2 separate regions of the Homo sapiens genome follow, and region 2 is linked to region 1. The links come from fine-mapping of genetic effects on gene expression. Tissue or cell type: whole blood. Region 1 holds a variant in brackets; the other region holds the start of a gene. All regions are shown on one strand. Distances are between the middles of the regions.

Region 1 (8,260 bases):
ACTGGGACTACTATTAAATTTAACGTATGTATTTTCTTCCAATCTTTGTGGAATGTTTTTTCCCGCATGTATATTTCTTTGCAGGATGAATTGTAAAATTGCTTCTCTTTCCAGCTTAGCTTGACACTGCCTGAACGATGTGTTAAAAACAAAATCTATAAATAGTTGTATAGTAGACAGGAACACTTGTGAAATGTAAATCTAGATTACGATGTATATTTGAATTAGGCTCATCCCAATAAAATTTGTATTCATAAAACTTTATTATAATCTGGTGTAAGGTAGAATTTGAATTTACTGTGTTAAGAATTTGCTTCTGAATGGTCAACTGTTCAATTTTCTTTTTTTTTTTTGTTATTTTGTTTTTTTAAGATGGAGTTTCGCTCTTGTTGCCCAGGCTGGAGTGTGGTGGTGCAATCTCAGCTCACTGCAACCTCTACCTCCTGGGTTCAAGTGATTCTCCTGCCTCCGCCTCCTGAGTAGCTGTGATTACAAGAGTCCACCACCATACCCAGCTAATTTTTTTGTAGTTTTTTGTAGTAGAGATGGCGTTTCACCATGGTGGCCAGGCTGGTCTCGAACTGCTGACCTCAGGTGATCTGCCCACCTCTGCCTCCCAAAGTGTTGGGATTACAGGCATGAGCCACCATGCCCGGCCTGGTCAACTAATCTTTATGGGAATAAAGAATAGGGGGCAAATAAGAGTAACTCATCAGCATTCTGTACCCACTGAAAAATACAGGTTTTGTTGATGAAATGGCTAAATGGGGCTGTAAAGTTTATTGTGTATGTGTTCTTTTTTTGAGAGGGATTGGGTGGAGGGCTAGAGTGGAGGATTTTGTTTACAGAAACATGTGGAATGCCACTTGATGTAAATGTTTGGGGGATTCTTAGGGTATGCTGGAGGTGCAGTTAGCCTAATGGAAATCTTTGGCAGAAATAAAACTTGTTAAAATATACTCCAGAAAATGAAGAATTTGTCAGGTAAATTGGTTAATTCATAGTACTAAATTTACAACCCCGAATTTGAAGTTAAAACATAAAATGATAGTGAAGAATACTGTGTGATGCCCTTTGGAAAGTGCAGTAGTTGAGAAAACTGGCAATACCAGCAGGAATCGTTAGTTTTACTTATTGTGCCTTTTTCCTTGTAATGTTATCGGGGAAAAACAGGTTTCCATATTTCTTTTTTTTTTTTGGAGACAGAGTCAGCCAGACGGGAGCGCAGTGGTGCAATCTTGGCTCACTGCAACCTCTGCCTCCTGGTTCAAGCGATTCTGCTGCCTCAGCCTCCCAAGTAGCTGGGATTACAGGCACCCACCCAAGCTAATTTTTGTATTTTTAGTAGAGATGGGGTTTCACCATGTTGGCCAGGCTGGTCTTCAACTCCTGACCTCAAGTGATCCACCCGCCTCGGCCTCCCAAAGTGCTGGGACTGCAGGTGTGAGCCACTGCGCCTGGCCAGTTTCTGTTTTTTTGTTGTTGCTGTTTTTTGAGATGGAGTCTCACTCTGTCGCCCAGGCCAGAGTGCAGTGGCACGGTCTTGGCTCACTGCAACCTCCGCTTCTCGGATTCAAGCGATTCTCCTGCCTCAGCCTCCTGAGTAGCTGGGACTACAGGTGCACGCTACCACGCCTGGCTCATTTTTATTTTTTATTTTTTTATTTTTTAGTAGAGACGGGGTTTCACCATATTAGCCAGGCTGGTCTCGAACTCCTGACCTCATGATCCACCCGCCTCGGCCTCCCAGAGTGCTAGGATTACAGGCGTGAGCCACCGCTCCTGGCCCTCCGTATTTTTTTAATGCAGCATTACAGGGCGGAGTAGAAAGGAGAACTTAGATATAGAGGTTTAAAGGTATATATTGGGTAAAGCTTTCTTTATGCATAATATTACATGTATTTTACCATGTAATTGGATGGCTTGGGTTATGGGATTAATCCCTGCGTTTGTGATTACTTTGTTACTAAGATCGATTTATTCAGATAACCTTGATGTAGGGAGAGATCAGAAATGGCAGTATATTTAATCAAGCACCCTTGAAACCATCTCAGTATAAAAGACCTGGGGGGACTAGTTTTAGAGTTCAGTGGTTGAGAAATTGTATCTGAGAGAGTAGGAATGTAAAACTTGGACCTACAAATTTGCCTTTATTTAACTTTGCAGCCTCCAACTGGTACAGATACTATGGTCAAAGCTGGAGTTAGCACTAACATAAGTACCAAGCACCAGTGTATTACTGCTATGAAAGAATATGAAAGCAAGTCACTAGAGGTCAGTAAAATACAATACAGAATGTCAGTCTAACCTTTTGATTTTATTGGAATGCAGCTTTTAAAAATGGTTTTGATTTTCTTTAGGATAGAGTGGTTCAGTTTGGGTTTATGTAAAAAATTAACATTAACCAAATTATTTTTAAAAATCAAGTATTATTTATAGATATCTACTTGTTTAGGCAGGGATAATATTCAGGGGTATGTGAAGGTCTAGCACCCCTAATGGTCTTTTTTTTTTTTTGAGATGGGCTTTTTTGCCCAGGCTGGAATGCAGTGACACAATCACAGCTCACTGCAGTCTCAGCTTCCCAGGCTTCATGTCCTTAGCCTCCGAAGTAGGTGGGACCACTGGCATGTGCCCCACGCCCAGCTAATTTTTAAAAATTTTTTTGTAGAGGTGAGGTCTCACTATGTTGCTCAGGCCGGTCTCAGACTCCTGAGCTCAAGCGATTTTTCTTCCTCAGCCTCCCAATGTGCTGGGATAACAGGCATGAGCCACTGAGCCCAGTCTAATCATCTGTTCTGATTGGATGTTGCTTCTGTTACACTGGGCAATGTGTATGCATGCATATGAAGGTGTTTTTAGTAAAATTATGCAAAGTACAGCTTAATAAAAGTTGGTTTTTTTTTGTTTTTTTTGTTTGTTTGTTTTTGAGACAGCATCTCACTCCGTCACCCAGTCTGGTGTGCAGTGGCACATCTTGGCTCACTACAACCTCCACCTCCTAGGTTCAAGCAATTCTCGTGCCTCAGCCTCCCTAGTAGCTTGGATTACAGGTGTGGGCCACCACACACAGCTAATTTTTTTTTTTTTTTTGAGACGAGTCTTGCTCTGTTGCCTAGGCTGGAGTGCAGTGGCGTGATCTCAGCTCACTACAATCTCTGCCTCCTGGATTTAAGCAGTCTCCTGCCTCAGCCTCCTGAGTAGCTGGGATTGCAGCTGCACGCCACTATGCCCAGCTAATTTTTGTATTTTTAGTAGAGATGGGATTTTGCTACGTTGGCCGGGCTGTTCTTGAACCCTGGCCTTGTGATCCGTCCACCTCAGCCTCCCAAAGTGCTGGGATTACAGGCATGAGCTGCAGCACCCAGGCACATTATGTACTTTTTAATGGCTGTCTTTGAACATTGAGATAGTCATCCATGTTGTTGCATGAAGTTAGTTTGTTCATTCTTATTGCTTATGTAGTAGGTTGTTGTACATTTTGATAGTCATTCATGATTATAGTGATTGCTTCTTTCTACATACCAAACTATGCTTACTTTATTGGGCTGTGCCAGGAACATCCGGACTTGAGACAAAATTGATAAACTTTATTTTCTAAATTTTTTGCCCCACAGAATCTACATATGTTAATTCACTATAATTTTTATTTTTATTTTATTTTTATATTTTAGGGCTGGGGAGAGTTAGGATTATTTTATGACATTTTACCAAAAGAGTGTATTGTTTGTGAAA[G/T]AAAACTGAGATTAAGATATTGACTCTTTGGCTTGTAGTTTTATGATAATTATGGTATGGATTTTAGTGTCTATTGGAAATGTTTTTCTGTAATGATATAATGTCATTCCTTAGTTTTCTCTTTTTTAGTTATGGTTCCTATGTGAACATAGAACTTGAATACTAAATTCAAGTATTTAGCCTCCTAAATAATTATTTTTAGCTGCATGTTAAGATTAGAAATATGTTTTCCCTCCCTTCAGGAACTTCGTTTAGAGGATTATCAGGCTAACAGGAAGGGCCCACAGAACCAGGTGGGAGCAGGTACCACAACTGGCTTGTTTGGGTCTTCTCCAGCCACTTCCAGCGCAACAGGACTCTTCAGCTCCTCCACCACTAATTCAGGCTTTGCATATGGTCAGAACAAAACTGCCTTTGGAACTAGTAAGCACTTGATATCATGTTAGATTATACTGAGGAGAGACAGATAACTAAAACTAAAACATAATTGCCATTTTGGGATAAGTGCTATGGAGAAAAATAATAATTCAGGGATACCATAGGAATAGGGAGGAATGCCTGGATGTATGTGGGGAAAGGGAGAAAGACAGTTTAAGATGAAGACGACTAAGGAATGCTTCAGAGGAGAAGGTGATGTTTGAGCAGTGACGTATCTGAAGAAGATGAAGGAGCAAGTTGTACAGATTTCTGGGGGAAGAACATTCCAGCTAGTGGAAACTGAGTCTAAAAACTCTGAGTTTTTGCCATTTGAAGAGAGGGCAAGGGAAAATACTGGGGGATATAGGGGCCATATTTTATACGACTTTGTAGGCCAATATCAAGACTTGAATTTTTATTTGATTTAGGAAATCCTGAAAGTTGTTTTGAAAGAGAAGTCATGTGATTGTGAGTGAAGGATGATTCTGAAGTCTCCTATATTGACAGTAGATTGTAAGAGTAGAAACAAATTACTTAGAAAGCTATTATCAACATAAGAGGTGTTAGTGTCTTGGACAAGGATGGAAAAGAGGCCAAGTGTGGTGGCTCACGCCTGCAGTCCTAGCACTTTGGGAGGCCAAGGCAGGTGGGTTGCTTGAGGTCAGGAGTTCAAGACTAGCCTGGCCAACATGGTAAAACCCTGCCTCTACTAAAAATATGAAAATTAGCCAGGCGTGGTGACAAGCACCTGTAATCCCAACTACTTGGGAGGCTGAGGCAGGAGAATCGCTTGAACCTGGGAGGCAGAGGTTGCAGTGATCTGAGATCACACCATTGCACTCCAGCCTGGGTGACAGCAAGACTCCATCTCTAAATAAAAAGGACGGAAAAGAAAAAAGATGAGGTTCTGGACCCAGTTTGATTATAGAACTGATGGAATTTGCCGATGCATTGGTTTAATGTGGGATGTGAAAGAGGAGTTAAAGATGATGATTACTTGACAAAAATACTACTTTTGCAAAAGTAATGCACATATGTGATACAAAGTTCACAAAATACAGAAAACTAAATAACCAGAGGTTATATACTTGCCTTATACACTTTCCCCAGCCACCAGTTTGCCTCTGTAGAGAAAAGCAAAAATTATAGCTTTTCATAGCCTTCTAAAGAGATGTACATACACACACACACACACACACACACACAAATACGTATTTATCTAAGTTATATTTAACCTACTTTTTCTTTTCTTTTCTTTTCTTTTCTTGAGACAGGGTTTTAGGGTCTTACTCCCGTCACTCATGCTGGAGTGCAGTGATGTGATCAGGGCTCACTACAGCCCTGATTTCCTGGGCTCAGGTGATTCTCCTACCTCAGCCACCCTACAGGCATGTGCCACCACACCCGACTAATTTTATTTTATTTTTTTGAGACGGAGTCTCACTGTTGCCCAAGCTGGAGTGCAGTGCAACCTCCAATTCCCAGGTTCAAGCGATTCTTCTGCCTCAGCCTCCCAAGGAGTTGGGATTACAGGCACCCGCCACCATGCCTGGCCAATTTTTTATATTTTTAATAGAGTTGGGGTTTCACCATGTTGGCCAGGCTGGTCTCGAACCCCTGACCTCAGGCGATTAACCAGCCTCGGCCTCCCAAAGCGCTGGGATTATAGGCGTGAGCCATGGTGCCAGCCCTAATTGTTTTTTTTTTTTTTGAGATGGAGTTTCGCTCTGTCACCCAGGCTGGAGTGCAGTGGTGTGATCTCGGCTCACTGCATCCTCCACCTCCTGGGTTCAAGCGATTCTCTGCCTCAGCATCTGAAGTAGCTGGGATTACAGATGCCCACCACCATGCCTGGCTGATTTTTTTGTATTTTTAGTACAGATGGGGTTTTACCGTCTTGGCCAGGCTGATCTGAACTCCAGACCTTATGATCCACCCGCCTCGGCCTCTCAAAGTGCTGGGATTACAGGCATGAGCCACCATGGCTGGCCGTCCAGCCCTAATTTTTAGCAGGGACGGGGTTTCACCATATTGGCCATGCTGGTCTCGAACTCCTGATCTCAGGTGATCACCCGTCTCAGCCTCCCAGTGTGAACCACCATGTCCAGCCTAACGTACTTTTCAATCTTGATATTCCATGATTTAGTTTAGTATGCTTTTTTTTTTTTTTTTTTTTTTGAGACAGAATCCCACTTTGTTGACCAGGCTGGAGTGCAGTGGAGCAATCATAGCTCACTGCAGCCTTGAACTCTTGGGCCCAAGTAATATTCCCACCATTCTGCCTGGCTAATGTTTCATAATTTTTTCTGTTTTTTTGGTGGGGGTTGGAGGACACTGTCTAGCTCTGTCACCCAGGCTGTCGTGCAGTGGCTCCATCACAGCTCCCCGCTGCCTCAAACTCCCAGGCTCAAGCCATATACCCACCTCGGTCTCCCAAGTAGCTAAGACCACAGGCAAGTGCCATTAGCCTGACTAATTTTTAAAATTTTTTTGTAGAGATGGGGTCCCATTGTGTTGCCTAGGCTGTTCAGGAACTCCTGTCCTCAAGTGATCCTCCTGCCTTGGCCTCCCAAAATGTTGTTATTACAGGTGTGAGCCACTGTGCCTGGCCCATATTCATTATTGAATATTACATATCAGACTCTGGGCTGGATATATTCATGTAAAGAAGAAGCCTTTGTTCTCATTAACCTAGACTAGCAAGGTTAAAATACACATGCTGACTTCTAGTGTATTATCTTGTAAAACAGAAGGAAGCTGTGGACTTACAAGGGAAGATCATTTAGCCTAGTTAAGCTTCTTGGGGTAAGGATGTTATTACAGAAGTTAAAGTTTAAATCTAGAGTTAAGTGAAGGATGGAAAACGAAAAGATGATCAAGTAGTGAATGAAGGGTAGTAGATAACATAAAGACTATTACAACAACTGGATAATGGAAGGTTTTGTATTTTTGGGTGTTTACATTTTTTTTATTATTTCTTTTTTCTTTTTTTTTTCTTTTTCCTAAAAGGTACAACTGGATTTGGAACAAATCCAGGTGGTCTCTTTGGCCAACAGAATCAGCAGACTACCAGCCTCTTCAGCAAACCATTTGGCCAGGCTACAACCACCCAGAACACTGGCTTTTCCTTTGGTAATACCAGCACCATAGGACAGCCAAGCACCAACACCATGGTAAGGAAACAGACCCTTACTTACCTCCATGTCTTATTTTTAGAGTTAAGTAATGAGGATTCTAATCATGTCAAACTAGCAAATTCTACCTGTACTGCAAATCTTAAGAGTTGAGGGTATTTAATGAAGGGAAGAGAACAAAGTTTTTTTTTTTTTTTTTGAGATGGAGTCTCGCTCTGTCACCCAGGCTGTAGTGCAGTGGCCCAGTCTCAGCTCACTGCAAGCTCCGCCTCCCAGGTTCATGCCATTCTCCTGCCTCAGCCTCCCGAGTAGCTGGGACTACAGGTGTCCACCACCATGTCCAGCTAATTTTTTGTGTTTTTAGTACAGATGGGGTTTCACCGTGTTTGCCAGGATGGTCTCGATCTCCTGACCTCGTGATCCGCCCACCTCGGCCTCCCAAAGTGCTGGGATTATAGGCATGAGCCACCGTGCCCGGCCAAGAACAAAGTCTTAGAATAATTAAGACCTAGATTCTAGCCTGGGCTCTACTCTTTACTTGTTGAGATGCTATTGAGGCGATCACTTATCCTTTCTGAAAGTATTTTTCTCATTACTAAGTAGGAACTACTTAGTGGGCTGGACTTGGCCCTCTTAAAGCTATACCTTGGAAAATTGACTACAGCCATTCTATAGGGTATAGGAGAAAATACTTATTCATTACTGACTATATTTCAGAATATAGCCAACAACAGGAACTAAGGGAACGTTCACCTAGTTCCCTTGGGAATCATACAAAGAAGTTTTTTTGTTTTTTTTTTTTAAAGGGAGACCTACGACTTAGAGCCATACTGTGTCCAAAGAAAAGGTCCTCATGGTCATTACTAGTTTATTTCTAGGGACATTTTTTAGGGAAGTATGAAATTAAAGAAGGAAGTGATGTATGAGTAATTGATCAGGACTTGGAATTTACCTCGTCTTAAAATTAGAGATAC
Region 2 (8,000 bases), 100 kb after region 1:
AGAAAGCAGAGTGGGTCAGCTCTGTTGTCTGGAACTTCCATTTAACTTAGATGCCTCAGGATAGGGGTTACTCAGCTGGAATCCCCTCCACTACTGACTCACTATGTGAACCTGAGTGAGTCACAAAACATAGTTGGACTTCCAGCAAAGAACACCTGACCTGGTTTCCTTACCAGAGGAATGTTTCAGAAAGTGAGTATGCTATAGAAATGGTTAGCTCTTAGCAGTGTTCGGAATTGTGGGCCAGGAGTGGTGGCTCACACCTGTAATCCCAGCACTTTGGGAGACCAAGGTGGGAGGATCGTTTGAGGCCAGGAGTTCAAGACCACCCCAGGCTACATGACAAGACTCTGTCTCTAAAAAAAAATAAAATTAGTTGGGCATGGTGGTGTGTGTGCATAGTCCCAGCTACTCAAGAGGCCTAAGCAAGAGGATCGCTTGAGCCTAGGAGCTGAAGGCTGCAGCGAGCCATGATTGTGCCACTGCACTCCAGCCTGGGCAACAGAGCAAGAAAAAAAAGGTTCTCAATCAAAGGTTTATCATAGAAGCCATGTTGTGCATAAAAGAGAATATCAACTTCCAGTTCAAGATAAGGGTGATGAACAATCTCTTCTTTTTTTTTTTTTTTTTTGAGACAGAGTCTCGCTCTGTCCCCCAGGCTGGAGTGCAGTGGGGCACGATCTGCAAGCTCCACCTCCCGGGTTCATGCCATTCTCCTTCCTCAGCCTCCCAAGTAGCTAGGACCACAGGCACCCGCCACCATGCCCGACTAATTTTTTTTTGTATTTTCAGTAGAGACGGGGTTTCACCGTGTTAGCCAGGATGGTCTCGATCTCCTGACCTCGTGATAAGCCTGCCTTGGCCTCCCAAAGTGCTGGGATTACAGACGTGAGCCACCGCGCCAGGCCTGAACAATCTCTTCCACATCCCAAAATCCCGTTGAAATAGTAAAAAATGTTTTAATTTCAAAAAAAATTCTCAAAAACATAAAACAGGAACCAGTTACCTCAACATTCGATAGATCTGTGGAATCTACAACATTCAAATAACTTATTTTCTCAACAGAACCCAAAGTTAACAGAGGTCTGGAGAATTAAATATTGGAATAATTAAGCAAAGGCCTGCAGAGTATCTGCTCTTTTTAGATGTTTCATCTTTAGCTCAGTTTTGTTAATTTGTATTTCCAGAAAATTGTTCCAGATTTTTTGTTATTCAAATAACCAGTCCTTAGACGTATTAATCAATTTTACTGGAGTTCTGTATAATCTTAATTTCTGCTTTAAATGTTCATTTCTTAGGCTTTCCTAAGGATTTGTTAAACCTTGTATTGGTTGGGCACGATGGCTCACGCCTGTAATCCCAGCACCTCGGGAGGCTGAGGAGGGAGAATCCCTTGAGCCCAGGAGTTTAAGACCAGCCTAGGCAACATAGGGAGACCTTGTCTCTTAAAAAATGAACAAAAATTAGCTGGGTGGTGTGCACCTTTAGTTCCAGCTATTCAGGAGGCTGAGGTGGCAGGATGGCTGTAGGGTATTTTGGTAGTTGTTCTTTAACAAGTTAAGGACAGTTCCCCTCTACTAGCTTGAATAAGTGAATGTTGGATTTCAATTTGAAATGATGTGAAACGCTTGTGTGTTAGGAAGGTGGTTGGAGATAAGCAGAGTACCTGGGAGAGGGGACGGGTGGAGAAAGTGCAGGGAATCACTGGCATATCCACGATGCCCAAAGTCATGGCTATGGATGTGATTGCCAGGGAAGTATGTGCTGCTGTTGGTCAGGCAACTGGTCAGCTTGAACAAAAATAATCAAAACTCTGTGCATGATAAATACCTGTGACCTGAGGATAGCCTGGCTACCTTACTGGGACCACAGTGTAAATATTGTTGATGACCTGCTGTACCTTAGGCACCGTGCTAGACAGTGCCTTGCACTATCAGGTTATCTCATTTAAATCCTTGCAGTTTTCAAGATGAGTACTGTTAATCCCATTACCAGATTGAGAGAACAGAAACCCAGAGAGTTTAAATATCTTACCCAAGTGAGAGCGCTCATAAGACAGGGCCGAAAGTGACTGAATGCTTGCCCTCTTCTCCCACACTGCCCACAGTGTTTGGGCAAGGTGAAAAAACAGGCTCAGATGGGAATGACTGCAGGGAGTCTGAGGAGAGGATGTGGGCTCCATCTTCTGCTCCACTGGGTCATCTGGAGTGGCCTGAGGCTCAGCACTACTCCCACCAGGAGGGAAGGGCTTGCTTGACCCAAAGTGCCTAGCCTGGAGTGTCTAGTCCCGCACTGCAAGGAGAGCTGCAGGTCTAAGGCAAACCTCCACCTCCAGAATTCAGGCAATGGTGGCTAAGATGAGAGGACAGTTATCCATCCACTGACCCTGGCCCCTCACACTCTTAAGCCCTGGTCTTCCACATACCCTGACCCAGCATACCTGTACTCTCCAACACCCGAGGATGGGCCTGAGCTGAGTCTGTGTGCTGCTTTACAGAGTTTGAATAATTCAAGCCCCAGAGGCCCGAGGTATCAGTTTCCGTTGCTCTGTTGTCATAGGCACGGTGTAATTAAGCTAATGAAAGGGCAGAGAGGGAGGGGCTGTGGTCCTGTGCCTCGGACGACTCTGGGCTGATCAAGGGAGGAGTCCCTGGTCCCTGTTCTGCTGAGAGAGCAGCAGGCCCATCTAGAGTCCAGGTGTGGGGAATGGAAGAAGGAAGGAATGAGGGATGAAACAGAAGTAGGAGAAAGGGAGAGAGAGTGGAAAGAGGCAGGCAGGGGATGATCAGAGTCAGGGAGGCAGAGAGACCAAGAAAGTTACAGACGGAAAGAGAAGGAAGCAGAAACAGAGTGAAAGACAAAGCAGGTGGGGAGCATAGGAAAGGGCAGAGGCAGAGGCCAGAAGAGGCAAGGACCAGCAGAGAAGAAGAAAGACCAAGTACTAAAATCCAGGGGCAGGCACAAATTGGAGGGTCAGAAGACTGGAGGGGCTGCAGGGCTCGCTGGAGGGTGGCTGGACCCACCAGAGATCTGTCTTACTTCTGACTTCTAGGTACTGTCCACACCATCCTTGCCAGCTGGGCCTAATTTTGCCCTAGGTCTGGCCAGGAGGCCTCACATCCAGAGACCTGCCCCCGCTCTTGCAGTGCCAGGGCCATGGGGCTCCGGAGCCACCACCTCAGCCTGGGCCTTCTGCTTCTGTTTCTACTCCCTGCAGGTATGAAGCTCAGTACACCAGCCCTGGCCTCTCCTGGTGGTGCTACTATTCCTGTTCTCCCAAAATCCCTTTCCATGTAGTCTCTCTTGTGTTTCTCCTCAGTACCTGTTCTGAGAACAAGCTCTCTATTTGGGGAGTGTGGAGGAGAGGGGTGCTGAAGTGCGTGAGAGGAGACTTGCCTGGCTAGGGTGGAAACAGTGAGCGGGGAGCTTCCAGAGACAGGGCTGGGAAAATCAGAGGGGCCAGATGTTGAAGGGCCTGCCGGCCAGGCCAGGTCTTTCTCCTGCAGATGACGGGGAGCACTGAAAGGTTTCAGCAGCATACTAGCCTGGTCAGATGTGCATGCTTAAAAGCGTGGTCCTGGGGCATGGGAGGGGTAGAAGAAGGTGAGCCTTTGGGGAAAGGGAGACAGTGAAGGGAGGGCCCTGACCTGGAGGGGAGAGGGTAGACTCAAGACGATGTTTCGCAAAATCTGGAGGATTTGAATGATCTGACAGGATCTGGAGATTAACTGGATTCCCCGAGGAGGAGGCAGCAGAGGGAGAAGGGAGGGATAATTCCCAGATTTCCAACTAAGGTCACTGTTGAAGCTGAGGGCATGCTATTTGCTGAGATAGGGAACATGGGATAGGAAGCAGGTTTCAGAGCATGGAGGGAGGAAGCGAGTTCATATTTTGGACCCTCAGAGTTGAAGGTGCCTGTGGGAAACTCAGGAGTGGACTGTACTCTATTGGGGTCTGGAGCTCAGGAGAAAAATCTGGGATGAAGAAAAAGATGGGAGCCAAGGACAGGATTCATGGGAACAATGTTTAGGTCAGGGATTGAGGAAAATTTGTGTCAGTAAAGCCTGGGGAAGTGTGTTTTCAGAGTGAGGGAGTGTTCCATCGCATCAGAAGTTTTGAAGAAACCAGCTCGAGATGGAGAAGTGGAAACAGGTTTGAGAGATACTGGAGGGGGCAGAGCAGTGGGGTTTAGAATCCCTGGGTGAAAGTCTGGACTCTTGTGGCTTATTTGGGCCCCTCTAGCATTTGTGGAGAGGCAGGCAGACTCCAGGTCCTTGAAAAGGGGAGGGTGGAGGAGAAATTTGTCAGCCTGGCGCCAGAAGATAGTACCAGTTCACTCCATGGCCTTTACCTCATGTGTCCCTGCAGGCAGGCCAGGGAGGAACTAGAGCCACAGCTAGAGCAAGAGAAGGCAGACACCAGGAGGACACTCATAAGGACAGGGCCCCAGCCCTGGGAGTGGAGGGTGTGAGCAGAGGCCCTGGGACTAGGGCCTGGGATGGACAACCCTCCTTACTGACCCTCCAGAGTGCCTGGGAGCTGAGGGCCGGCTGGCTCTCAAGCTGTTCCGTGACCTCTTTGCCAACTACACAAGTGCCCTGAGACCTGTGGCAGACACAGACCAGACTCTGAATGTGACCCTGGAGGTGACACTGTCCCAGATCATCGACATGGTGCGTTGTGGTGGTGGTACAGCTGTGGAGTCTTACCTGTCACAGTGTCAAGAAATGAAGGGGTGAGAGACTGGGATTATTCTCCATGGAATTTCTTTTCTGTAAATGTTAATATTAACAAAGGTAGCAGTTACAAACTGTTGGGTACTGACTGTTGGGTACTGAGTATTGGGTGCCTACCTCGTGCCCAATATTTTGTTCACCTGAACTTACTGAATCCCTGCTAAGCAGGGATTCTCACCCCATATTCCTGCTGAGGAAACAGGGGCAGAAAAGAGAAGAGCCCACTAAGGTCACATGGCAAGGTCAGGTCTGGGTGGGAACTGGACGGTATGGACAAGTCAGGTTTGTGGGTGCTGACCAGAGCCCTGCAGGGGAGTGTGCACAGACAGGGCAGGATATGCATATACATGTCCACATCTCTGCCATTCCCTGCCCCCACTAGGATGAACGGAACCAGGTGCTGACCCTGTATCTGTGGATACGGCAGGAGTGGACAGATGCCTACCTACGATGGGACCCCAATGCCTATGGTGGCCTGGATGCCATCCGCATCCCCAGCAGTCTTGTGTGGCGGCCAGACATCGTACTCTATAACAAGTACTGCCTATCTGGGCCCCTCCTCTCTCTTACCCCTCTCTAGACTTGCCCTTAGCTGTGGGGGTGTAGTGATCCCCTCTCCCTACCACATAACCTGGTTGCCACGCTGCCCTGGAAGCTTTTCCCCAGGACCCTTCTAAGCTGCCAGGCACTCAGCCCCTCCATGGCACCCCCACTTTAGGCTATCCCAGGCCAGCCCAGGCTGAACGTCTCCTCGGAACCTACTGTGTGGTCCAGGGCAGTTGTCTGAATCACAAGGGCCTCTCTAGGGCACACTTTTAGCTCTAAGTCTCTCAGGGCTCCCCGAAGAGCCTGTGTAAGGGTCTCTTTCCTCCAGGACATAGCCCTCTGGAACACTGCTTTATGTCTCCTTGACCAGTTCCGTGTCTCCCAGCCAGCACATAGCTCTGCATATTTTCTCTGGGGCCCTTCTACAAGTTTTGCAGATGTCCCCCAAGGGAAGTCACTGTGTGTCCCGGAGCTACCTCTGGGTTCTGCAGAGGCCTTTTTATACATCCTCTGGCTACGTCTGTGTCCCTTCTGGGCCCTTCAGGCACCACCCCTTCCAGGCCTCGAAAGGCAGCGGGTCTCTCTAGGTGCACTCCACCCTCTGTGTTGCTTTGTTCTGAAAACAAGAATCAAATTAACGAAAAAAAAACAAGCACAAGTTTATTTATTTATTTGAGACACAGTCTCGCTCTGTCGCCCAGGCTGGAGTGCAGTGGCGCTATCTCGGCTCACTGCAAGCTCCGCCTCCCGGGTTCACGCAATTCTCCTGCCTCAACCTCCCAAATAACTGGGACTGCAGGCACCCGCCACCACGCCCAGCTAGTTTTTTGTATTTTTAGTACAGACGAGGTTTCACCGTGTTAGCCAGGGTGGTCTCGATCTCCTGACCTCGTGATCCGCCCACCTCGGCCTCCCAAAGTGCTGGGATCACAGGCGTGAGCCACCGCACCCAGCCACAAGCAGAAGTTTATTAATCTGCTGTACCCATCATGGGAGAGGCCTTAGTTCAAAAGTATTTCTCTCTGAAGGCAGTGACTTAGGGGCCTTGCTTAAATAGAAATTCAAGAAAGAGCCAGTAAGTTATAAATAGTGGCAAGACAAAGGACAGCCACCTTTAAAAGGCGGGAAAACGTGGAAAGAGGGTAAAATCTGTTTCCAGATTCCTCTGGCACCTACTGGTGCCCTTTGGATAAGCAAGTGCTGACTCCAGCAAGGAAGGGCTGATGTCCTGCCATCAGGCCAGCAGACGCTGGGGCCAGGTGCTCCCCTGCGTCGTGAGTGTCTCGAACTTAACGAGCCTCAATATTCTGGGGAGAAGTTTTGGTTTCTTTCAGCCCCTGGGGGTCTGCCCTGGGCTCCCGGCCTCCGGGGCTGCTCCTCAGGCTGGACAGCCTAGGTGAGCCCTGCCCCGCCTGCCCCCAGAGCCGACGCGCAGCCTCCAGGTTCCGCCAGCACCAACGTGGTCCTGCGCCACGATGGCGCCGTGCGCTGGGACGCGCCGGCCATCACGCGCAGCTCGTGCCGCGTGGATGTAGCAGCCTTCCCGTTCGACGCCCAGCACTGCGGCCTGACGTTCGGCTCCTGGACTCACGGCGGGCACCAACTGGATGTGCGGCCGCGCGGCGCTGCAGCCAGCCTGGCGGACTTCGTGGAGAACGTGGAGTGGCGCGTGCTGGGCATGCCGGCGCGGCGGCGCGTGCTCACCTACGGCTGCTGCTCCGAGCCCTACCCCGACGTCACCTTCACGCTGCTGCTGCGCCGCCGCGCCGCCGCCTACGTGTGCAACCTGCTGCTGCCCTGCGTGCTCATCTCGCTGCTTGCGCCGCTCGCCTTCCACCTGCCTGCCGACTCAGGCGAGAAGGTGTCGCTGGGCGTCACCGTGCTGCTGGCGCTCACCGTCTTCCAGTTGCTGCTGGCCGAGAGCATGCCACCGGCCGAGAGCGTGCCGCTCATCGGTGAGCAGCGGGGGCGCGGGGGGACCTGACGATGCGCTGGGGTCCCCCCAGGGCGGGGCCGCGACAGGGCCTGGGTCTGCGGAACGGCCCCACTGCAGAAAGTGAGAGGGGGGCGTCCTGGGAACGTGCCCTCATTTTAAGACTGAGGGGAAAGGATTAGCTCCTTCCAGGGAGAACACCCCTCACGACTTGGCCCTTGATGATGGAACATCAGTATCCCCAGATCCTAATGATAGGCAAAATCTGTCGACTGCTTGCTGTGTGCCAGGCACTCCCCTAAGCACTTGACCTTTATTAACTCAGGTAAGCATCACCACAAACCTAGGAAGTAGGTCCTCTGGGTATCCCATTTGTACAAAAAGGATTCGTATCTTGCCCCAGCTCATGCCCGTCGTTATTTGAGAGCGGGACTGTCCTGGATTGTGTATGAGTGCAGCCTCCAGCAGTGACGGGAGCAATTAGAGAGCAGTAGCTTCCGATGACCCACGTGTAGGAATGAAGGATGGGGAGAACTCGGCCCTTACCTCCTTCCTGCTTCCATCCATGGGGCTTGGAGGGTCTGGAGAGCTTCATGGTGGGCTTATTTCCATTTGTGCAGAGGTGGCTGGGAAGCTCAGGAACCACAGGCTTTTGTTTTGAGTCAATTGGCTTTCTCTCTCTCTTGCAGGGAAGTACTACATGGCCACTATGACCATGGTCACATTCTCAACAGCACTCACCATCCTTATCATGAACCTGCATTACTGTGGTCCCAGTGTCCGCC

What was found. PIP is the estimated chance that this variant, and not a neighbour inherited with it, causes the effect.
Region 2: CHRNA10 starts here. The variant in region 1 is fine-mapped to the expression of CHRNA10 in whole blood (TOPMed, PIP 0.95).

The regions. Positions count from the first base shown.
Region 1 is chr11:3,767,646-3,775,905 of GRCh38, reverse strand. It overlaps NUP98 (nucleoporin 98 and 96 precursor), which reads left to right. Exons shown (of 33, transcript NM_016320.5): 5 at 1-24; 6 at 2,167-2,274; 7 at 3,978-4,158; 8 at 7,162-7,325. Among named protein-coding and RNA genes, the nearest start is that of NUP98, 26 kb to the left of the region's middle. The variant G/T (reference allele first, on the strand shown) is at 3,736.
Region 2 is chr11:3,666,469-3,674,468 of GRCh38, reverse strand. It overlaps CHRNA10 (cholinergic receptor nicotinic alpha 10 subunit), which reads left to right and starts at 3,085. Exons shown (of 5, transcript NM_020402.4): 1 at 3,085-3,217; 2 at 4,528-4,673; 3 at 5,119-5,273; 4 at 6,705-7,237; 5 at 7,905-8,000. The coding sequence starts at 3,157.